3 linked regions of the Homo sapiens genome follow. The main gene of each other region encodes a partner of the protein of the gene in region 3 in a complex. Each region holds a gene or a part of one and is shown on either strand. Other genes may lie near its edges. A codon is read from its position in the direction of its gene.

Region 1 (7,795 bases), on a different chromosome or scaffold from region 3:
CAATGATTCTTGACTCTCTAGGAGGGGTCAAGCTTCCCATCATCCCAGGGGATCTCCTTAGCCCATTTGTAAGTTAGTGGAAACACAGAGGGAGTGAGGGAAGGGTGCTAGCCAGTCTTTATCCTTCACCAACATCAGATCCCGGAACACAACTGGCCCCTATATCTGTACAGCAGCAATATCTAAGCCCCAGCTAAAATGCCCTTTTATCAAAATCTGCAGAATGTTTTATCTTTTTCAGGTAAGCTCAAATTTTTCTATTCTCGCTTCCCCCAACCCCTATATACACACCGAGAAAGGTCATTGAAAACAGAATGAAAGTATCTCATACAACAAAATTAATTCAAGATACTTTCTTTGACAATGGGAACTCGCTTCTAAATAAGATACAAGAATGACTAAACACCAAACCAAAAGAAATGTGAAAGCAAAATTAATACTTTACACCAACTAACAGTTTGTTTGCAACATCAGCAAATGGAGCATTCACCTGTTACTAATTTCCCTAAATACAAAGTCCACTGCATTTCTAGGAAGGATGGTTAGTGTTTGGCAAATTTTTTGTGTAAGCATTGAAAAATATAACTGAGAAGTTAATCAGAGGGCCATGAGTGGGCAAAAAGATCTAAAACATGTTGATTATTTAAAACACCAGAGCACCAGAGAGCACGCAAGTCTTTATCTTATAATAAAATGATCCTATAAGTCACTATAATAACAATTGACTACTTTGTATATGCAAGTTTATCCTAGGGACTCTAAAAATAGAACTTGTAGGATTTAAATCTAAAGTAAAGATTTTATGGGCATGATCTATTAGATCCTCCAGCTGATCCATTTATTTGCTTCCAGTATGAACTGATAACTTGCTTATGTTTTCTTCAAAAAGTGAGACCATTCTTCCCATAGTTTTTCTATCACCAGCCATACACTGGTGGTCTTTAGAGTTTTTCAGATCCATAAAAGGATTGAAAAAGTATAAGAATCACCGCTCTAAAACATCCTTATGAAAAGACATACATAAGTATGAAATCACAAAAATCACAATGTGTTTCCAAACAAATCCAACATTCTTTTATGGCCAGTAGCAGCAAACAGGTTTTGTGGAACTGACATAAAATCTAATTTAGCCATTATTACAACATTACCAGCAGCTCAGAGCACTAAGTCACCTCAATAACCCAGTACTGCTCTGCCCATATTATCTATGGCTTTAATTAAAAGTGTTTAGAAATGGTTTTAGTACTGACTTTGTTCAGAATATGTGGCTGAATTCTAAATTTAAAAATAAGTCTTCCAGTAGGCCCACAAGTGATCAGAATTGGGTACCAAAAGTTGTACATTTAAACACTTTTATTAAAATGTTTATACATGTACATAAAATATTTTATTGTGATACAAAACTCTGTACAAAGTGTACTAACAACTGACATGATTATAAATGAATCCCCAAAACAATGGTGCCTAAATTTGAACACTAAGGAGAAAAAAGGAGGAAGAAATACTTGAGACAACTTTACCATGGCATAGCAATATTTCCTGCTGTCAAAATTAATAAAATATTTTGCACAAGGGTGTTACAATTAATTTTATCAGGCTAACAATGTCATAAGTGAGGAACCCTTTCAACTGTAGAGAGCACTGTGGAAATATAGATGTGGTAGAACAATCTATATCACCCTGCAGTTGTTTCTGTGTTTCTATGACTAGCTTTGTTTGAGATTGTATAAAGCGGTCTTCACACCCCGGTGAATAAGATTGGTGGATGCAGTTCCCTGCCCTGCCGCAGAAGGGACCTCCAAACACAGTTTAAATCTGACTCTCCGGGAGTTGTGTTTTGACACTTTCACAACAGTGTGAACTTGTGCCACAAGCAAGACAGATCTTATTGGATTAACACTGAACTCGTGACAGCTCCAGAGAGTAATGCTATCTGTGCGGCTTAAGAACAAACGTGTTTCTTTCATCCACCCTGCTCATTCTCTTCCTGCAGTTACTCCTAGCAAATCCTCCCCGCCCTCACCTCTAGGAATTCCTCTACACCCAGAGAAAGGAGTTTCTTTCCTCACTGCGGAAACCTATCACCGCTTCCTTTCCACAGATGGACTCCAAGGGGCACTCACTCGTGTGCCCACTAAGGGATTTCTCTCCTAATTCCACGCCTTCCAAGGGAAGTCAGAACTGCTCAGTTTCCCCCGGTGACCACATACACGTGTCCAAGTGAAGCCTCGTCTGGGGGAGACTCAGTTCCCACACTTCCCCCTGGCCCCTGTGGAGGCCCTCTGTCTCCCCTGCGTGGCCCTCCGCCTGGCCCCTCGCACTCACCAGGAGGAGGTTGTGCGCCACCAGGTACCCGAGCCGCGGGCTGCCCCGGATGCCGGGGGCCAGGCGCCCGGTGGCGTAGCCGTGCCAGGCCACCACGTAGGGGTTGTCGATGGTGATCCAGTACTTGACCTGACCGCCGAAGTGGCGGAAGCAGAGCTCCGCGTAATCCCTGAAGTGGTCGGCCAGGGCGCGGTTGGCCCAGCCGCCGTAGGCGTCCTGCAGGCGCTGGGGCAGGTCCCAGTGGTACAGGGTGACCACGGGCTGCACGCCCAGCTCCCGCAGCCGCTCCAGCAGGCGCCGGTAGTAGCGCAGCCCCTCGCGGTTGGGGACGCCCGCGCTGCCATTGGGGAGCACTCGCGCCCACGAGATGGAGAAGCGGTAGTGAGTGACCCCGAGCTCGCGCAGCGCCTCCGTGTCGCGGAAGACGTTGTTGTAGCTGTCGCTGGCTACGTCCCCGGTGGCGGGCTGCAGCGGCGACGGGGCGCCCAACGGCAGACTGGCGTTCCGGGAGTCTCCCGGGGGTGCCAGGGGGTGGTGGGTGAACGTATCCCAGATGGACGCACCCTTGCCGTGCTGCTGCCAGCCGCCCTCGGTCTGGTAGGCGGCGCTGCCCACGGCCCAGAGGAAGCCGTCGGGGAAGGTGCCCTGGAAGAGGCCCGCGGCCTCGGGGGCAGGAGGCCGCGAGAAACGGGCCCAGGTCTGCGCGCCGTCGCCCGGCTCCGCACGCAGGCGGCGGCCGCCCAGGCCCAGCAGCACCAGCAGCAGCGACAGCGACGGCGGCGGCGGCCGCGGGCGGCGCGGCGGGGCGCTGGCGGGCATGCTGCGCGGGAGCCAGGCTCCGGGGCCCCGCGCCGCGCCCCTTTATGCCCGCGCCCCGCCGCGCCCGCCCGCCCACCGCCGGCGCGCCCACCCCCGCTCCCCGGCGGGCTCCGCTGGCAATAATTACCTGCGAGCCGGGACTGCCTCCGCCCTGGCACTGGGGGCGGGGGCAGGGGCGCCGAGGGCGAGGGGTGCCCGGGAGGGGCGCGGCAGCGGGCAAGGTGCGGCAGGCGTCGCCCGCGGACGTCGGAGAAAGGCACCTGTTTCTCCCAGCTCCCGGGAGCCGTGCAGGACGTTTCGTGGACGCTCAGGTTCATTCTCTTTGCCTGCCGCGCGTCCTCTGAGAGCAGCCCTGGAGCGGCTTCGTCGGGGAGAAAAGGCGCCGACCAACTTTCCCCGACTTGGGGGCGGGATCCTGCCGGGCCCTAGCGGAGCGCGCCGCTGGGGAAGCACCTGCTCTCACTTTTCTCCCACTCGGAGGCCCAAAGAAGCTCCGGCTGGACATTGCTGGAGCCAATTAGGGACTGGCCGAAATCCTAGAGGGACTGCCAGGTGGGACAGCCGAGGGGGAACTTCGCCGTGCGCTGAAAGGGATTCCCCCTTAGGTGAGATGCTCGCGGGGAGACGCGCCCACCCGCGCCCCTCTTTCGAGGAAGACAAAGTAGATTTATGGGTTGCGTTGGGACTGGGGTTTTGCTCTCCCTTTTACTGTTACCTTTTAATAATTTCAAACCAGCACTCTATCTTTGATTAGATCTCTCAGAATACCCTGGTGAACTTCAAATCACAGTCGTTGATTGTTCTCCTGAAAAACCAAACACCAAGTTTCCAATTTTGAGTAAATCTCATTCACCTTTATTATCCTTTGGCATCTGTGTTACCTTTCGGCTCTGACTTAGCAGGTAATCTGTGCAAAGTTGTGCGCACAGGTCTGCTGGAGCGGGAGGTCCCTGGGTCGCACATTTGCCATCTGAGCTGTGGAGGGAAAGGGGAGGGAGAATTTAGCCGGAACACCCATTCCCATCCTCTACAATACAATGGAGCCATGACGTTTTTCCTGTTGCCAAAGAGCCCTTTTGACAGAAGTTGCAGAGCCACAGTGTCCATTTGGATGTGGGTAGATAGGATTGTGGCTAACCGAAATACAGTTGGTGGAGACTGAGAAGGTCTAGGCTCCACCTTTGTGATTTGGGGCAGGAAACCTCTGTAAGCCTAAGTTTCCTCCTCTATAAAATAAGGATGTCCTGTCTGCCCTGCCGCCTCAGAGGCTTGTGAAGTCCAGTGAAAAACTGCGCAAAGGTGACTCAAAGACAGAAAGCCCAGACAAGTGAAGGATCTTGCTAATATCCCTACCTCCCTACCCAGTAAGTCGTGCCTTAGTTTCCTCACCCGTACACGTGTGTTGAATGACCAAGATCCTCACAGAGGTGCATCCATTCTCCCCCAGTGATCTATCTTCCCTGCATTATTTAATACAAATTTAAAGGCAATAACATTTTAAATGTTGCAGATGAAGGTGCTTTTATTAATTCCCCTGAAATATAAGCACAAATTTATTCCAGTATTTTATGAAATATTCCCAACTCCAGCCAGCATATATTACCATGATTAGTAAGATTAAGTCTTCAGATTGAAACAGAGTTACTGCCATTCTGTTAAATATAGCATTTACATTTTTTCAATAAATACGAAATAGCAAACCATGACACTTCAGCAATTTTAAAAAATTACAGCACACAACTTCACTGTCACGCTGTCTTCCAGCTAAATTTAAAAAGCTACGTCTACATGGAGTATCACATTTCCCTTCTAGAAGTGAAGATTGGAGTGTCTGTTGGGTTGTAGCTTGTTAAGTTTCAATTAGAAATGCTTCATGGGTCTCATGGAAAATCGCTTAAGCTAAGTATTCATTTATTGATGTATGGTCTGTTTGCTCAGGGCAGATTTTATCTATTGCTATTTTTACTTGACCAGCAGCATTTTTTAAATTTTAAAGCAGTGATTAAAAAGCAAGACCAAGTTAACTAAACGTTTCACATTTGAAATTTGTCTGCCACATAGGCACATGCATCTCAAAGCTTTAAGCATTCCAAGACATGTTCCCAGATGATTGTTCATTTAACCCAGTGATAAAGATTGCATGATGATTAAACTTTATTTCCAGAACTTTCTGTTTATTAAGGTTCTGTTCATGGTTACTAAGTTCTGGGTTCCACAAGTGTGAGACGGAGTCTCACTCTGTCGCCCAGGCTGGAGTGCAGTGGCATGGTCTCTGCTCACTGCAACCTCTGCCTCCCAGGTTCAAGCAATTCTCCTGTCTCAGCCCCCCAGTAGCTGGGATTATAAGGGCACACCACCACACCTGGCTAATTTTTGTATTTTTAGTAGAGACAGGGTTTCACCATGCTGACCAGGCTGGTCTCAAACTCCTGATCTCCTGTGATCCACCCACCTCGGTCTCCTAAAATGCTGGGATTACAGGTGTGAGACACTGTGCCCGGCCTAGTGCTGCTGCTTATTTATTTTGGCTTTATTTTGGTTTTTATTTTTTACAACCACCTTCAAACATCTGAAACTTGGGTTTCAAATGCAAATAAGAGATTAATTACTTGCTGTGCTTTGAACAGGAAGGTGAAGTTATTGATGCATTGAAGAAAAGGACATTGTAAATTTATTTACTGACTTTGATTTTGGTGACAATTTCAACACTGAAAGTTGTCAACAATCTGATCAACTTTTCCTCCATTCTCCACATTCCTTCATCCAGTGCCTTCCCACCTGTTCTCTTTCCTATTGTGTTCCCAGGACGATGGGAGCCTTTTAACACCAATGGAGCAGGAGATGCACTGATTCACATGCACCCAAATACAACACCAACCCCACAAGCTCTCAGCTCACCAGTCACAGACATCACCTTCTACGGACATATTTTTATTTCACTGAGCTACAACTACGGGCAAGGCAACGACGAGCTGTGTGGAGACTTCAAAACATAGAGGACAACCTCTGCCCTCAAAGACAACATCCAACTGAAGAAAGGATCAAGAAAGATGAAAATAAATAAGTTGTTTGATTATGCTGTGTTAATAAATGACCCATAGAATAATTGTCAGAGAAATTCAGAAGAAGAAGAAATTACCCTATTTTGAGTTGTTTGGAAAAGTTTAACAGAGAAAAATATGACAATATCTGGGGTTTAAAGAGTAAAACTCGCACAAAGACCTGGAGGGAAGGAATCAAGAGATGCCAACACTGAAGAAAAAAACATGTTCATAGTGTATTCGTGGTGAAAAGAAAGGGTTTTTGTGCGCAAGGAAGTAATGGACCAAAATGCAGTAGTCCCAGTGCCTAGAATCATGCTGAGCACAAAACAAGTATTTGTTTAATGAGCAAATGAAAGTAGAGTTTCATTTGTCCAGTTAACAAAATACACAAGTATTCCCTGCCCTCCTCTTTTTAAAATTAATTAATTAATTAATTTTTAACAGACAAAAAATTATATATATTTTCATGTACAGCATGTTATTTTAAAATATATACACATTTGTAGAGTGGCTAAATTGAGCTAATAAACGTATGTATTACCTCACATACTTATTTTTTTTGTGGTAAGAAGACTTAAAATCTGGCCGGGCGTGGTGGCTCACACCTGTAATCCCAGCACTTTGAGAGGCCGAGGCAGGTGGACCACCTAAGGTCAGGAGTTCGAGACCAGCCTGGCCAACATGGTGAAACTCCTGTCTCTACTAAAAATACAAAAATTCACCAACATGGTGGCAGGCACCTGTAATCCCAGCTACTCAGGAGGCTGAGGCAGGAGAATCACTTGAACCCGGGAGGCGGAGGTTGCAGTGAGCTGAGATCACACCACTGTACTCCAGCTTTGGCAACAGAGCAAGAGTCTGTTTCAAAAAAGAAAAAAGAAAAGAAAAGAAGAAAAGAAAGAAAAAGAAGAATACTTAAAATCTACTCTGAGATTTTCAAAAATACAATATATTGTTATTAACTATAGTCACCATGTGGCACTATAGATCTCTTGGCTTATTCCTCCATCTAATTGAAATTTTGCATCCTTCAAGCAATATCTCCCCACCCCTCCACTCCCACATCTCATCTTTTGGCAACCATCGTTCTCCTCTCTGCTTCTGTGAGTTCAACTTTTTCAGACTCCACATATAACTGAGATCATACAGTATTTGTCTTTCTGTGCATGGCTTATTTCATTTAACATAATGCCCTCCAGGTTCATCCATGTCATCACAAATGACAGAATTTCCTTTTTTTTGTAAGGCTGACTAGTATTCCATAGTGGATATATGCCACATTTTCTTTATCCATTTGTTTGTTCATGGATACTTAGATTGAATCATTATCTTGGCTATTGTGAATGGTAATACAGTAAACAACACAATGCACATATTCCTTCGGCATACCGATTTCATTTCCTTTGGATATATACCCGTAATAGGAATTAGGAATGCTGAGTCATATGGTGATTCTTTTTTCTTTTTCTTTTTTTTTAAAAAAACCTGGTCTCACTCTGTCCCCCAGGCTGGAGTGCAATGGCACAATCTCAACTCACTGCAGTCTCAAGTCCCTCGGGCTCAAGCAATCCTCCCACCTCAGTCTCCCCAAGTAGCTGGGACTACAG
Region 2 (7,523 bases), on a different chromosome or scaffold from region 3:
TCACTCTGTCACCCAGGCTGGAGCACAGTGGTGCGATCTCAGCTCACTGCAAGCTCCACCTCTGGGGTACAAGCGATTCTTCTGCCTCAGCCTCCCAAGTAGCTGTGACTACAGGCAGGCACCACACCCCACTAATTTTTGTATTTTTAGTAGAGACAGGGTTTCCCCATGTTGGCCAGACTGGTCTCGAACCCCTGACTTCAAGTGATCCTCCCACCTCGGCCTCCCAAAGTGCTGAGATTATACGCGTGAGCCACCGCATCTGGCCTCTTTTGGGTAACTTTTAATTGTAGTGTGTAATTTTTTCCTGCACTTTTTTTTTCCCATAATACACATGACAACTCATTGAACAGTACAAAAAGTTATCTACATAGACTAGGAAAAGTAGATCTCCCTCCCACTACCCTGACCCGAAGTTCCCCTCCCCGCATTCATGTTTAACTCTTTAAAGATGCAATGTTTAGCTAGTGCCTATGTCTAAGGAAACAAAATCACATTTCTATTTTTAAAAATCTGAAGTCAGTTCAATTTATTTTGCTGCTTCTCAGTCATTTTAATTCACTCTAACTAGCACTCAGTGATCCCTTGGGGCCTGATACGAGGTGGGCTTTCAAGGAAAAGGTCTAAGTTCAGACTGCCAGCCCAGGAGGTTGACTCTTCACACTCACTCCCCACCGTAGCCGGCCTGTTCTGTTCTACCCTAATTCTTGTTCAGGAAGAAACGTCTTTAAGGAGTTCCTTTCAGCAACGGGATTCCAGGATTCGAGACAAGTTGTATAAACATTCTCTAGTTGGATGCAGCCCTTTCCATCTAAGAGAATCAAAATAATTTACCATAATCTACTATTCTGCATTTTAAATCACATATAGTCTTTTTTTTTTTTTTTTTTTTTTTTTTGAGATGGAGTCTCGCTCTGTCACCCAGGCTGGAGTGCAGTGGCGCAATCTCGGCTCACTGCAAGCTCTGCCTCCCGGGTTCACGCCATTCTCCTGCCTCAGCCTCCCAAGTAGCTGGGACTACAGGCGCCTGCCACCACGCCTGGCTAATTTTTTGTATTTTTAGTAGAGATGGGGTTTCACTGTGTTAGCCAGGATGGTCTCAATCTCCTGACCTCGTGATCTGCCTGCCTCGGCCTCCCAGAGTGCTGGGATTACAGGCGTGAGCCACCACACCTGGCCCACATATAGTCTTGAATTAGAGTAAGGGTGTCCCCTCCATGAGACATGCAAAATTGCATTTCCTGAAAGTCTGGTAGTGAGCTGGCTGACAAGGTAGGACGACAGACCATGAGGTCCTTGAAGGGTTGTGTCTTAGTTTTCAGCCACAGCGCTTGGTAGAATGCCAGGCACATGGTAGATCCTATTAAATATCCATTGAATAAAATGAACAACACTTCGGGTGCATCAAGTGTATCCAGATTTAATTGAAATTTTTGCCATGAGACTCAAACTTGGTTTCCAAGATGTTGACTCCTGAGTCTTACTATATTCTCTGGAGTTCTGGAACCTGTTTGGTATTCGGAGAGAACTTTCCTCTCTCCTTTTATCTCCTGTCAATATGCATTTAGTACTTGAAGAGGTTAAACTGTCAATTTCGCATGTTATATATCTTGCAACTTAATTTTGCATGTTGTATATCTTGCAACCAGGTTTAAGGACCTTTGGAGCCTAGAAGAATAAATGCCTCACACACAGCAAGGTCACAGCAAAAATAATTAATTTATTTATTACAACAATAAAGGGCAAATCATAATTCCTATGTTTTCTTTAGTTAGAGATTGTCTAACTAATTTTTCTTTCCTTTAATTTGAGCTATATTGGATCAGTTTGCATTTTTCTGTATGCTTTGAGGTGTTTTCTCACGTTTTCTTAAAATAGAAGATCCAGTCTTTTTCAATATCTATCCCTGCTTTCACCACATTACCCCTTATATAGGTGCACACAAAGGGACCCTCATTTGAATCATTGCTAATGGATTGATTATTGTGGATTGTGATCCAATTCTCCACAAACCTGATCTTTAAAAACATTCCAGTTGTCTCATGTTGCCAATAAGTTTCTAACTAGCTTGACTTGCTACTGACTGGACACCTTTCAGTTCCACAGAGAAGAATCACCAACTCATACTGGGTACCTGGGTACCTGGGTGTCTGAAACACCCATTAAACCTGTTGGATGGATGGATGGATGGATGGATGGATGGATGGATGGATGGATGGATGGATGCATGGACAAATGAATGGGTGGATGGGTTGTATACTTGGCCATTCTCACCAAGACAACATACATGGACAGTCTGTCTTTAATACATTTTTCCAAGAATTTTTATAAGGCCAGAGTTGGAAAGAGCCCCCAGATTTATCTATAACAATCTGGGTATGACCCAGGAATCTTTACAACCTCCCTAGTTAACCCAGTCCAAAGTCCATGAGCTGAAACTTAGTGTCTGTTGATCTGCCTGGCTTCTTTTTCTCTTAGACTCCTTGCCTTTCTTTCTGTACATTTTTTCAATCTTTTGACGGGGCAAAGGGAACATGGCTCCTACTGTGGGAAGGGTTTTAGTTGAAATAAAAATTATTCATATTGAGAAAAACCAGCAAATGCTAATTAGGAGAGTGACAGAATCTTCCCCTAAGTTTTAAATACACACGCACACACACACACACACAAACACACACACACACAAAGACAATAAGTGGTTCCTGGGCAGAAAGCTAGGAGGGTTGGATTAGCCCTCCAGTCTAGTCCCCAACCTCCCCAAGCCTCCTGTAGATGGACAACAAGGGTGCTCCCCTTCTTCCCAGCCTGAAGCCCTACTCACTGTAGATGGTCTGATGGGGTGCGCCATCCACATGGCCATTCTTGTGGATCTGCAGGTGGTAGCTGTTCCTGGCTGTGGCTGTGTACAGGTGGATCAGGCCACCCCAGCTGGAGCCGAGCAGTGGGGAGGCATTGGGATAGGCTCTGAGGACGCTCATGCTGCAGACGCTGCACAAGGCACAGACCCAGAGCCTGAGGCGGGCCCCCAACATCGTGCCCTGCTCTGAGTGGCTGGTGCTGAGATTGAAACCTGACACTCCTGTCGGGACTCTCCTGGCCCAGGCCTTACTGGCCTTTTCCTTCTCCCTTGCAAGTAGCTGGTGTGAGGATCCTAGACTGGATTCCCTCCTTTTTGCCGTCAGACTTTTAAAGGGTAGCAGTGTGACATCAAACAGGAAAAACTCCACTGTCCACATCCTCTGTGTTGTAATCAGCCCATTGAAAGAAAGTGCAAAGACCCCGGAGGCGCACGGAAGGCACGTCGGTTCCAGACACACACACCCCTCAATTTCAAGCCAACGCTCCAAAAAATGAATGACGTGTGGGCAAAAGTTATCTGCCACTCTGGGCTGTCTGTTGACCTGTCCCACTTCCATCAGGAAATGTGAAGGCAGCCAGCGGTTCCCAAAAAAAATCCAGCTTCAGTCAAGCAGTCAACCGACTCCTAGGCAATTAATCTCCTGTCGAGTTTACTTATTTTGGTTTTCTTTAAATTCCAATCAGCAAGTATGTATCCAGTGCTTAATCTGTGAGCAGGATTTGGTGGGTAGCTTGCAGGATATAGAGATACATGACACCATCAGGCAGATGGCATCCTCTAAGAACACCCACTTCATGAAAGATGGGAGCTAGGAGCAGGGGCACAAAAGCCAAAGTTGCCATTTTGGGAAGATTTTGAAATGGAAGAAAAAGAAGTAAGGCCTTGAGGTCAGTGAACATGCCAAGGTTCAGTTTCTCAGCTTCCTTAGTCTGGACTTCACTGAATATGCCAAGGTTCAATTTCTCAATTTCCCTAGTTTGGACTATCGAGGGCAACTAAACTAGTAGTCTCTCCAGTAGTAAGGAGACTCATTCAGAGACCTCATGGGGATTGGAACAGCTGCTGGCTGAGCACTGGGGATCCGAGCCTCAGGACAGGGTGTCCCCACATTTAGTGTCTGTACATGAGTGCTCAGCTTGGTGTTGGATGCCTGCCTGCAGATGCTGTTCACAGTGAGCCCTCTGGGAAGCTACACCTGATGTCGGGTGGAATAGTCCTGGCACATACAGTCTAAAGGGGAGCAAGCTACTGGAACACACACCCGAAAAAACACACAAGGAGTTTGCTATTCTTCCAGTTTCCCTGTACTGAGTATATGCCATGTACAGGCATCAAGCTAGACTCATGTACAGGTTGATATAGGAGACAGCAAGATGTGATTCCTATCTTGAGGAGCTCAAATCTAATGCAGGAGGCAGATAAAAATAAGTAACTATAATACAAAATGAGTGCAAGCTTACAGGTATAGACAGAAAGAGATGGCATTTGTTACCCTACATTTGTACAGTTTTTTTTTATAGTTTACAAAGCATTTTCACATCTATTAGCTTATTTGAACCTCACTGCCACTCTGTGAGATAGGCACTCCATGCATTATCAAGATTTTAATACTTTACATGAAGAAATGGAAATCTTAGTGTTTCCATGTCCAAAGGCACAAAGCAAATAAATGGTAGAGCCAGGACAAGGTCTTCTCCTTCCCTAGGCTGCTTCTCCAAAGAATCACAGCAAGAACTAACGCTCATGGAGAGCTTACTGTTCCACTTACTGCTCTAAGTGCTTTACTTGTAGTAACCCATTTCATCTTCAGAATAACTCTTTGAGGAGATGCTGTTATTTTCTTTATATAGATCAGGAAACTGATCTATGCACACAGTTTAAGTAACTTGCCTAGAGATAGAAAGGTAACATGTGGAAGAGGTTGGATTTGAATCCAGGTCTGGCCCCAAGACCTCCTAAGCACTTTTCAAGGTGTCCAAACCCATACAACATGTTAGAGCTAAAGCCATGAGAGCCAGGAGCTTGGTAAAAAAGTGCAGGTGGCAAAGCAGTCCTCTGTTATTCTCTAAAAACCCAGGCTTTTACCCAGGATGAATCTCTAGGACACATGGTGCTTGTCTCCCCAGGGTTGAGTGGAAGAAGTATGACATGAAATGTTTATATGTAAAACAGTCTTCTTTACTAATAGCCACAGAATGGATTATAAATATAATGCTACGTCTTAGCTAATTGAAGAAATAGCTAGCTTTCAGAATTGAGATGCAAATCACTTAGGAACATTTGCCCTGCATTTCTTATTCTGGTTGTGAAAGGTAAAGAGATGGGAAGTAATTATAAGGCAATCAGCAGCCATTGAGAACCTTCTCCATGTAAGAGATGAAAGGGAGGGTGTAGGACTACAAAGCAGGACTAACTCCTCTAGGGGCTCCCAGTGTAACTGAGCAGGGAACATCTTCGTTCAATACAAGGCACTGTGTGGGAGGAGCTTCATTACTAGGAGCAAATTAGTGAAGATGTGGTACTATATTTATAAACCATTCTGTGGCCATTACTAAAGAAGCCTGCTTTATACATAAACATTTAATGTCATACATCTTCCAAACAACCCTGGGGAGACAAGCACTATGTACCCTAGAGATTCACCCCGGGTAAAGACCTGGGTTTCCGAGAGAATCATGGAGGAGTGCTTTGCTGCCTGCACTTTTTTACCAAGCTCCTTCACAAAAAAGAAATGTTGACCAGGCGTGGTGGTTCATGCCTGTAATCCCAGCACTTTGGGGGGCCGAGGTGGGCAGATCACTTGAGGTCAGGAGTTCGAGACCAGCCTGGCCAACACGGTGAAACCCTGTCTAAACCCCGTTTAGTAGAAACCCTGTCTCTATTAAAAATACAAAAAAATTAGCTGGGCGTATTGTGTAATCTCAGCTACCTGGGAGGCTGAGGCAGGAGAATCACTTGAACTGGGAGGTGGAGATTGCAGTGAGTTGAGATTGCACCACTGCACTCCAGCCTGGATGACAGGGCGAGGATCTGTCACCAAAAAAAAAAAAAAAAAAGGTCATGGTGGGTAGATGCTGTGGTCAAGGAGGGCTTTGAGGGAAGGAGAGAACTGAGGGAGCTTTGTAGGATACACAGAGAAGGGTTTTCCCCAGCACCTGCCAAGCATGATGGAGAGGGAGCACAGGTGTCTTGGGATAAGTCCACAGCCATTCGGTCATTCCCCTAGCTCCTGGAGCGACTGGGGAAGGGGCTCCTCCGTGGCCACCTCAGCTTGTCTTATTAGGAAAGAGAGCCCTGTGCCAGCTTACCCAGGTCCAAAGCCTCCCCTCCAAGAAGAAGCCCTGTGTGCTTAGCATCTGGCTCTAATGGCAGAGTCCAGCCCAGAGGAGTAGACTTATTTTTAAGGAGGATGGGAGGAGAAGCAGCATTTCCCACTTAGAGAGAGTAAAGGAAGGCGCAAGAATCTCAGATTAATTCTCCCCATTTGAGATAGGGAAACACTGAGAGCGGAGATGAAGATTTGCCCATTGGAACACGGAGACAGCAGAATGTCCAGCTCCAGGCTGAACTCCCTACCAGTGGCTTCCAAATCTGGCTGCTCACTGGAATTACCTGTGGAGCTTTAAAGCCATAATTGCCCCAGGACTAATCTTAGACCTACTGAATCTGCAGGGGCAAAAGTCAGTTATTTGTACTTTATTCAAAGCCACCTGGGAGATTCTAATTCTCCACACCAGATGTGGCTGATACTAAAGTACTTATCAATAAACAGGCTTTGAGCGCCAACCACACATCAAGCACTGGAAATAGTACACAGAGACTAAGGCCCTCTTCAGTGGCAGGCTCAACTTTCCGTTCCCTTCTAGGATGTCCATCCTAACTGCAGGTCAAGATGTAAATGGGCCTTTCTAGGGAATTTAGTACTGAATGCTAAATCAGTACCTCGTGCTGACAAGTACCCTGTCCTTGAGTCCAGTGCATGGTCTCCTCTGAAGCTTCAGTGGGTAAGAGAAGGGAGAGGCCAGGACATGTCGGTTCCTGTCCTTTGCACCTAGAGGGCACTCCTCCGTCACAGTTCAGGTCCAAGGGTCTGGGAACCAGTGTGACCTTAGGAGCCCAAAGAGAAACACAGATAGATACCAGCTGTGAACAGGAAGCCCAGGGAGGAGGCCCTGGGTTTGTGCTGTTTGGACGTCACTGTCCTTGGTTCCCAGGTAGCTACCTGAATGCAGCAGATAGGCTGGTCCCATGGCAGGCAGGGAAACCTGTTGTCTCCAGCCTGGTTTGGAACCCACTTCTCTGGCATTAAGAGAATTTGCCCCGGGAGCTGTGTGGAAGCATCAAGTCTAGTCCCTGCATTTACGCTCATAGAATCAAGGCTCTTAGTATAGATAAGGGCCTATAAGAATCTGTATTCCGGCTGGGCGCAGTGGCTCATGCCTGTAATCCCAGCACTTTGGGAGGCTGAGGCGGGCAGATCACCTGAGGTCAGGAATTTGAGATCAGCCTGGGCAACATGGTGAAACCCTGTCTCTACAAAAATACAAAAATTAGCCGAGCATGAGTGCGTGCCTCTCGAGCGTGCTGCTCGAGAGGCTGAGGCAGGAGAATTGCTCGAACCTGGGAGGCAGAGGTTGCAGTGAGCTGAGATTGCACCACTGCA
Region 3 (8,039 bases):
GCTGCCCAAGGGCTACTGTCAGCTCCTGCTCTTGCTGCTCCAGGCTGGGAGCCAGGCAGGGCTCTGTGGGCAGAGGGCAGAGGTCAGCAGACCCCGCAGCCCCATCTGAGGCAGCCTCCTGTGTACAAAGAACACACCGCACATGCAGGGCACAAGCACTTTGCAACGCATGCTGAAGGAGCCACCACTCCTTGACACCCACACAGCCACATGCTGCGGATGCCACACCCAGGGCAAATGCCACACTCTTGGGGCATGTCACACACACAGCATTTAGTGCACACGACAGTGGCCAAGACACACACACACACACACACGCATACACACACACACATACGGACACACACACACACAAGGCACATGCTGTTGGTGCCACATACAGGGTCATGCTGCACCGGGGCATATCACCCTCATAATGCTTATACCACACATGCTGCCTGGACCTCCTAGGTCACACACCCAGTGCACAGAACACACACACACACGCACACACACCCAGGTAAGGAGCTCACCACCAGCTCTGCAGCCCAGCTTAGGGCCCTGCGCCCTGCAAGGCCAGTCCTCTCTCGCAGACACAGTGATAGATGAATGCTTGCTGGAAGCCAGGCACTGACTGAGTCTCAGTGGTTGAGCCCTGCCCTGCCGCCACCTTCTCAGGGCCTGGGCAAGGATCCTTTCCAGCTTTGCTCAGCCCAGCAGCCCCCTCCTGGTGCCCACTCTTCCCACCCCTGCCACCCTCTCCCACCTCAGAAGCCATACCAAGCTCCACTTCCTCAGAGGCCTCCAGGGACAAGACTGGAGGCCCAGGCACACTCAGCAGGACCCCCAACAGGGCCAGCAGCAGCCGCATCTCCTTCTCACAGCTCTCAGGGACCCAAGCTGGACTTCCCACCAACTGCCTTCCTAAAATAGGGAGGGAAAAGAGCTCCTGCTACACGTGCACCTTTGTGGGGGCTTTTCCCTTATTTTGCAGATAAGGAAACTGAGACAGGAAGTGGCCAGCAGATGTGTCCAAGTCCCTGGCCAGGCTGTGGCAGTGCAGACTGGAACCAGCTCTGTAGTAGCCAGAGCCTAAGGCCTCCCCACGGTAGGTTGTGCAAGGGGTCTGGGCTGGGCTTCCTGCTCTCCCTGAGTCCTGCTGGGACCCTGGCACACGTTCACAGAAAGCAGTTTTGGGATTCTTTTTTGGAGGGAAGCAGAGAACGGAGACATATCTTCTGCATGCTCTCGGCACACATAATTTCTTTTTTGCTAAATAAATGAATTGATTGCAGAAGAGCCAAAAAAGAAAGTGAAAAATGACACAAGGTCAAACTTCAGCATCTGGATGGCATCTGATCCGATCCCCACTCCTTACAGCATTACTGACATTTCCAGGGCTGGGTGGTCACAACTGACAAGGCGGCCCCTTCCGTGGCAAGCAGGACCGCGACCCTGGATACCTCTGCTTGTTATGCACCAACTCCATCTGAGGCACACACGGTTTTGTAAAGAATACAGACCCTAATTTTCCATCTGCCAGAGCCAAGTTCAAATCCTGACTCTCACCAACTTGTAATTCCTTGTCTCTGTCTCTCTCTGGCTTACTATCCTCATAGGACTGTTTTGAGGATAAAAGAGAGAACGTGCGTCGGCACGCAGAGTGTTGGAATGTTCTCCTCCCTGTGCCCGGCCCTAGAACGGTTAACCTGTTGCCCTGGGTCTGCCCTTAGCCAGTCACCTCTGGTTCGGATGCTGTTACTGTCAGGCTGTGATGTACACACACCCCAGCTGGCTATCCTCTTCCAAATGCTACCAAGGACGCCTCTGTTCCCCAAAATAGAACACTCAGAACTGAGTCTCAGCTGGGACAAAGGAATCGGTGACCACTGCAGTCCTAGGGGCCTATGGGTGGCACTGGTGTCTCTGGATCTACCCTGCGTGGGAAGCCTATCACACCTCCTCCTCCTTGGTCACTGCCACTCCACTTCCAGTCCATCTGGCTTCCCCTGCCCCTTCTCAAGGCAGGTCATGGCCATCTCTTGCATGGGCCTCTGGAAACATCCTCTCCCTCGGCTCTTCAACCTTCATCTTCCAGCAGAGTTTTAAAAAACTACAAGTCGGCTGGGCGCGATGGTTCACACCTGTAATCCCAGCACTTTGGGAGGCCGAGGTGGGCGGATCACGAGGTCAGGAGATCGAGAACATCCTGGCTAACACGGTGAAACCCCGTCTCTACTAAAAATACAAAAAATTAGCCGGGCGCGGTGGCGGGCGCCTGTAGTCCCAGCTACTCGGGAGGCTGAGGCAGGAGAATGGCGCGAACCCGGGAGGCGGAGCTTGCAGTGAGCCGAGATCGCGCCACTGCACTCCAGCCTGGGCGACAGAGTGAGACTCCGTCTCAAAAAAAACAAAATAAAAAAATAAAATAAAATAAAAAAACAAACAAAAAAACCTGCAAGTCTGCCATGTCATGCCCCCCAGCTTGCAAGCCCTTAATGGCTACCTGTGCCCAGCAGGATCCAGCTCAACATCCTAGGGCTCCCTCTCTGCCGCTGCCTATCTCTTTGGTCACACCGTCTGCCCCTTCAGGAGCGCTGAAGCCATTGGCTTTCAAAACTGGGCACATGTGCTCTCTTGCCCATCCCTCTGTGCCCCTCATTGCTCTTCTCTACCTGACTCAGATACTGCTGTCTCTGGCCCACCTCAACTCTCGAATCCAGTCGGATCCTCCTTGGTAAAACTCCCTACCAAGCTCGGCTTGGCAGGGAGGGCAGCTCTTTGGGTACACAGCTTGGGCTGGGAGTGGGTGGGGAGGCCCGGGGAGTTTATTCCTACCCCAGGCTGCCCTGATATCAGAGTCCTTAGTCGAGTCACCCATGGCTGCTGACCGCTGACCGACCACCCCCCACGTGGGAATGGAGGGCCTGCCTTAGGCATCAGACAGTCCTGGGTTCTCCTTCAGCCTCCCGCACTCGCGCTGGAGGCCCCCGGGCACTAAGTGACTGAACTTTTCGGGGCCTCAGGTCCCTCATCTCTGCCGCCGGCGCGAAGACAGCCGCAGGGACAAGCGCGCTTGTCCTCCCCCACCCTTGCCGGGCCAGCCTGGGGGGAGGTGCGAATCAATGGGTCCCGAGGGTAGCTGCACAGGGCCAGCCTGCCCCCGCCTCGGTGGGCAATGAGTAACCAGCTCCGCGGCCGGGGTGCTCTTTGGACGGAGCGGGACAAAAGGCCCTGTGTGCACTGCGGGTTACTGATTTACCGCCCCCTCCACCCCCTGCCGCCCGGCGGACGCCCAGGTCCCCTGCGCCGGGAGGGGCAGTCCCCGTAGCCCCGCCGCCTCTCGCCCCCTGGCGGCTGGGAGCGCAGCCCGGGCCCACAAGGGTTCCGGCTCACCTCGAGCCTGCGTGACTCCGCGCCCAGCACAGGGTCCTGCTCACCTGGCTCCTCCTCACCTGGCTCCTCCGCCGCCTCACTCCCAGCTCCAGCCGGCCGCGACCCCTGCACGCGGCAGGGTCCGCAGACAGCCCGAGCGCTCCTCGGCCGGGAGCGAGGAATGTACCCGCGACGGCGGCGTGGCCGCGAGCGGCCCACCTCCTGTCCCACCCCGCCCCTCGGGCCCGCCCCCTCCTGCTCGGGCCCGCCCCTCCTTCCACGCCCCCCCCCCCCCCACCCGGGCCCGCCCACCTCCTGCCACACCCCCTCGGGCCCGCCCCGCCTAGACCAGCTCGAGCCGGAGAGAGGTGTGGCCAGGGGTGGCCAAGATCCCCGCCCACCTGGAGAGCCCCGCCCCCGACCCAGTCAGCCCACTCCCGGGACCCCGCCCCAGCCTATACACACACCCCTACACGCAACCCCCCTATACACACCCCATTCAGGCTCCGCCTCTTTCGCCCCACCCAGGCCCCAGGCCAGGCTCCTAAATTCTAGTCTACTACCCAGCTCTACTCCTTGCTTTTCACCCTTCAGGGAATGCCTGGCTCCCCTGTCTTCTGCGCAGTGCCGTGCAGCGGATAGGAGAACCCCTTCCTTCTGCTCCCTCATTTGTTCCCTGCGCAACCTGCGGAGTGATACTTACAACACAAATCTGACTGTGTCAGCCACTCCCTTAAATTTTCCTATAGATTCCCATAGCTCTTTATACATAGATTGCCATGACCCACGCCTCCTGGCTCCCACCCTGCTACTCCTGGGCAGTTTCACGTACCATTCTCTCTTCCTGGAATGGCCCTTGGTCTGGTTAATTTCATATTATTCTCAGCTCACTTCCTTCAGGAAGCCCTCTGGACTTGCAAGCTCCTCTTAGATGACGTCTCTACTGTGAGGATGGAGAAAGAAACAGGGTGAAGTGGTTCAGAGCACAGACTACAGGGCTGGACGTCATAGGCCCAGCTCTCAGCACCATCACACAAGGCCTCAGTCTTCACTGTCCTTTCAGTAAAACAGGCAAATGATAGTCTCACCCACAAGAGGTTGTTGCAAAAAGTAGACATGTTAGCAGTATGTGTAAGCCTGGCATGCAGCGCTTGCTTTGTAATACTAGCTGTAATTATTTAGGACCTGTTATTTCTTCAGCACGCTTGCCAGAATTGTAACTGAACAGTTAATTATGTAAATAGCTGTGGAATGGCCGGGCACAATGACGGGTGCCTGTAGTTCTAGTTACTAGGAGACTGAGGTAGGAGGACAGCTTGAATTCAGGAGTGTGAGGCCAGCCCTGGCAACATAGTTGCCCTGTCTCTATTTTTCAGTAGAGGAACTGTGTCCTCAGACCTCACCATTAGAGTTCAAGTGTCTGGCATACAGTAGGTGCTCCCAGATAGCTCCGTGCCCACCTGGCTCATGTTTGCCTCACCTGTAAGCACTTCTCTCCTGAGCATCTAGACTGTGGCCAAACCAGGAGGCCAGGCAGCCTCTGATCTCTGCCCATCCCTCACCTGAATCTCAAGCCTTCTCCTTCTCTTAAGGCACCTTGAGAGGAAGGGAAATGGGCTGGGTGCACCTGTGGTCCCAGCTACTTGGGAGGCTGAGGCCAGAGGATTGCTTGAGCCCAGGAAGTCGAGGCAGCAGTGAGCCGTGATCGCTCCACTGCACTGTAGCCTGGGCAACAGGCTATGGAGCGAGACCCTGTCTGAGGCTCAGGTCCTGGTTGTCCCCTCTAGCTAGTGTAGACCCTGTCTTAAGAAGCAACTTCCTTTCTCATTGTTACGCAGGCAAGTCTAGTTCTTTCCACCCTCACTCCCAAAGGGATAGTGGCATATCTTTGCATAACTGTAAGGCCCATTAAAGAGACTTAAAATTGTTTTTTTCTTTTTCTTCTTAAGCGAAAGAATGGTCTCCTCCCAAAGATAAATCAGAAAATAATTGAGGCCAGGCATGGTGGCTCATGCCTATAATCCCAGCACTGTGGGAGGCTGAATCGGGAGGATCGCTTGAACTCAGGAGTTCGAGGCCAGCCTGGGCAACATAGTGAGATCTCGTCTCTATTAAAAATATATATTAGGCTGGGCACGGTGGCTCACGCCTGTAATCTCAGCACTTTGGGAGGCTTAGGTGGGTGGATCACGAGGTCAGGAGTTCAAGACCAACCTGGCAAGATGGTGAAACCCCAGCTCTACTAAAAATACAAAAAAATTAGCCAGGCATGGTGGCATGTGCCTGTAATCTCAGCTACTAGGGAGGCTGAGGCAGAGAATTGCTTGAACCCGGGAGGTGGAGGTTGCAGTGAGCCGAGATCGTGCCATTGCACTCCAGACTGGGTGACAGAGTGAGACTTTGTCTCCAAAAAAAAAAAAAAATATATATATATATATATATGTGTGTGTGTGTGTGTGTGTGTGTGTCTGTGTGTGTCTGTGTGTCTGTGTGTATATACATACACACAGACACACCCACACATATATATGTATATTATAAATTTTTTTTTAATTGGTTATCTTTTAAAAACAATTTGTCCTGGTTCCCTTCTCTAGAGTCCTGCCTTGCTGGAGCTCCCAGGACAGATGAGGCTCCTGGCCCTGGGAGCTGCCTGCCCAGAGGGTACCTTGCCAGACCTCCCGGACTGCTGGAGGGGTTCAGCTCCCTGCCTCTGGCCCTCTGCTGGCTCCCCTTGTGAATGTGGTTGTGGGGGGAGACAGGGTGAGCCGCCAGCTGGAGCTGGACCCCACATGGCTTTCATTCACCTTCCCGGGCATTTCCTGAGTTTACCAGAGCCAAAGACAAACTAAAAGTTTTCATAGCTCAGGTCTTGCAACCTCCTTGTCTCCTGAGATGCGCAAATCCCTCAGATTTGCAACCCTCTGATGTCCCTAGGATATGTTCCCCATATCCCTTGTCTGCCTCCTCTCCCCGCACTCATAACCTTTCACACTGACCCTCCACAGAGGCTGATGCTCCCTCACAAAGTCATTCACTCATTCACTCATTCATCTGAATGATTATTTATTGAAGGTTCATTATGTGGCATCCACTGTTTTAAATCCTGGGGATAAAGCCCCGAATTGGACTCTTTTTCTTTTCTTTTCTTTGGGAGACAGTGTCTTGCTCTGTTGTCCAGGCTGGAGTGCAGTGGTGTGATCTTAGTTCACTGCAAGCTCTGCCTCCTGGGTTCAAGTGATTCTCCTGCCTCAGGCTCCTGAGTAGCTGGGATTACAAATGTGCACTACTACACCTGGCTAATTTTTATATTTTTAGTAGAGACAAGGTTTCACCATATTGACCAGGCTAGTCTCAAACTCCTGACCTCAAGTTATCTGCCCATGTCAGCCTCCTCAAATGCTGGGATTACAGATGTGAGCCACCTCACCTGGCCTGGACCCTACTTCTACCCTTCAAGGGGCTGCTGACATTGTAGTGGGGACAGACAGATAAGTAATCAGTTACAGCCTGGGAGATAAGCTGAGCCAGTCAGGGAGAGCACCTAAGCCTTTCACACTGTCTCACTCTCTTGCTGACACGCAATCTTTCACCAGTCACATTTGCAGTCTCTTTCTCAAAGACATTCAGACACGACTGGGCACAGTGGCTCACTCCTGTAATCCCAGCACTTTGGGAGTCTGAGGTGGGCGGATCACTTGAGGTCAGGAGTTCGAGACCACCCTGGCCAACATGGTAAAACCCCATCTCTACTAAAAATACAAAAATTGGCCAGGCATGGTGGCACACGCTTGTAATCCCAGCTACTGGGGTGGCTGAGGCAGGAGAATCACTTGAACCTGGGAGGCAGATGTTGCATTGAACCAAGATCACGCACTGCACTCTAGCCTGGGAAACAGAGCAAGACCCTGTCTCAAAAAAAAAAAAAAATACATTCAGACACACACACACACACACACACACACTCTCTCTCTCTCTCTCTCTCGCTTAGCAGAGGCAAGAGCCTGTCACCCTAAGATCCTGCTGTTAACCTGCCTCTGCCTCAGTTTCCCCACCCAGAAAGCCGTCATGCTCCAGCTTCCTCTTCTTCCTTTTTTTTTTTTTTTTTTTGTGGAGATGGAGCCTCGCTCTATTGCCCAGGCTGGAGTGCAGTGGCGTGATCTTGGCTCACTGCAACCTCCGCCTCCCAGGCTCAAGCAATTCTCCTGCCTCTCCTGCCTCAGCCTTCCTAGTAGCCGGGACTACAGGCGCCTGCCACCACACCCAGCTAATTTTTGTATTTTTGTAGAGACGGGGTTTCACCATGTTGGCCAGGCTGGTCTCGATCTCCTGACCTCAGGTGATCCACCCGTCTCGGCCTCCCAAAGTGCTGGCATTACAGGCGTGAGCAACGGCTCCCGGCTGCTCCAGCTTCTTTCTTCCTAGGAGTGTTGGGGGAAATGAACGTGTTCCTGTTCCTGAGCTCGTGACTCTTCAGCTCCCGTTACATGCCAGGCATCATGCTGGGTGTTGTACATGGGTTATATCCTTTAATTCTTCCACCAAGCCAAATGGCATAGGAATCCTTAGCTCTGATTTGTAGGTGAAGAAACAAGCTCAGGGAGATGGAATTACTTATTTGAGGTCATCTAGCAAGTGAATTGCAGAACTCGAACCCCTGTCTTCTGGGGCAAAGATGGAGAGCT

Evidence for each region. The genes of interacting proteins can lie anywhere in the genome.
Region 1: the proteins of FGFR4 (region 3) and KL are in contact, whole or in part, in a cryo-EM structure (PDB 7YSW), measured with the Homo sapiens proteins. Residues at the interface, in NP_001341913.1 of Homo sapiens: Asp266, Gln282, Leu284, His286, Ile287, Ile289, Gly295, Ala296, Asp297, Gly298, Phe299, Pro300, Tyr301, Val302, Gln303, Val304, Leu305, Lys306, Asn311, Ser312, Glu314, Leu318, Tyr319, Leu320, Arg321, Asn322, Asp327, Thr332, Leu334, Leu341; in NP_004786.2 of Homo sapiens: Ser539, Gln540, Phe541, Thr542, Asp543, Asn545, Val546, Tyr547, Leu548, Trp549, Asp550, Val551, His553, Ser554, Lys555, Arg556, Leu557, Ile558, Val563, Thr565, Arg568, Tyr571, Val573, Ala576, Gln579, Pro580, Glu625, Arg628.
Region 2: the proteins of FGFR4 (region 3) and FGF23 are in contact, whole or in part, in a cryo-EM structure (PDB 7YSW), measured with the Homo sapiens proteins. Residues at the interface, in NP_001341913.1 of Homo sapiens: Glu156, Lys157, Lys158, Leu159, His160, Ala161, Val162, Pro163, Asn166, Asp240, Leu242, Glu243, Arg244, Ser245, Pro246, Lys272, Val273, Tyr274, Ser275, Asp276, Ala277, Gln278, Pro279, His280, Ala308, Asp309, Ile310, Ser312, Gly336, Asn337; in NP_065689.1 of Homo sapiens: Leu32 (codon at 2,939), Gly33 (codon at 2,936), Ser35 (codon at 2,930), Trp36 (codon at 2,927), Gly37 (codon at 2,924), Tyr43 (codon at 2,906), Ala45 (codon at 2,900), Thr46 (codon at 2,897), Ala47 (codon at 2,894), Arg48 (codon at 2,891), Asn49 (codon at 2,888), Ser50 (codon at 2,885), Ile75, Arg76, Ser77, Glu78, Asp79, Ala80, Gly81, Val83, Val84, Tyr93, His117, Gln118, Thr119, Asn122, Gly123, Tyr124, Asp125, Leu158.

What each region holds. Positions count from the first base shown.
Region 1 is NC_000013.11:33,011,790-33,019,584, reverse strand, and holds the start of KL (klotho precursor), read right to left. Parts: upstream 3,145-7,795; coding exon 2,326-3,144; intron 1-2,325. Other genes in the region: translation initiation factor IF-2-like, read left to right, coding at 3,143-3,749, 5,950-6,140. UniProt on the Homo sapiens protein: May have weak glycosidase activity towards glucuronylated steroids. However, it lacks essential active site Glu residues at positions 239 and 872, suggesting it may be inactive as a glycosidase in vivo.
Region 2 is NC_000012.12:4,376,551-4,384,073, forward strand, and holds the start of FGF23 (fibroblast growth factor 23 precursor), read right to left. Parts: upstream 3,163-7,523; 5' UTR 3,033-3,162; coding exon 2,822-3,032; intron 1-2,821. UniProt on the Homo sapiens protein: Regulator of phosphate homeostasis. Inhibits renal tubular phosphate transport by reducing SLC34A1 levels. Up-regulates EGR1 expression in the presence of KL. Acts directly on the parathyroid to decrease PTH secretion. Regulator of vitamin-D metabolism.
Region 3 is NC_000005.10:177,082,414-177,090,452, reverse strand, and holds the start of FGFR4 (fibroblast growth factor receptor 4 isoform 1 precursor), read right to left. Parts: upstream 3,539-8,039; 5' UTR 3,376-3,538; intron 904-3,375; 5' UTR 851-903; coding exon 760-850; intron 64-759; coding exon 1-63. UniProt on the Homo sapiens protein: Tyrosine-protein kinase that acts as a cell-surface receptor for fibroblast growth factors and plays a role in the regulation of cell proliferation, differentiation and migration, and in regulation of lipid metabolism, bile acid biosynthesis, glucose uptake, vitamin D metabolism and phosphate homeostasis.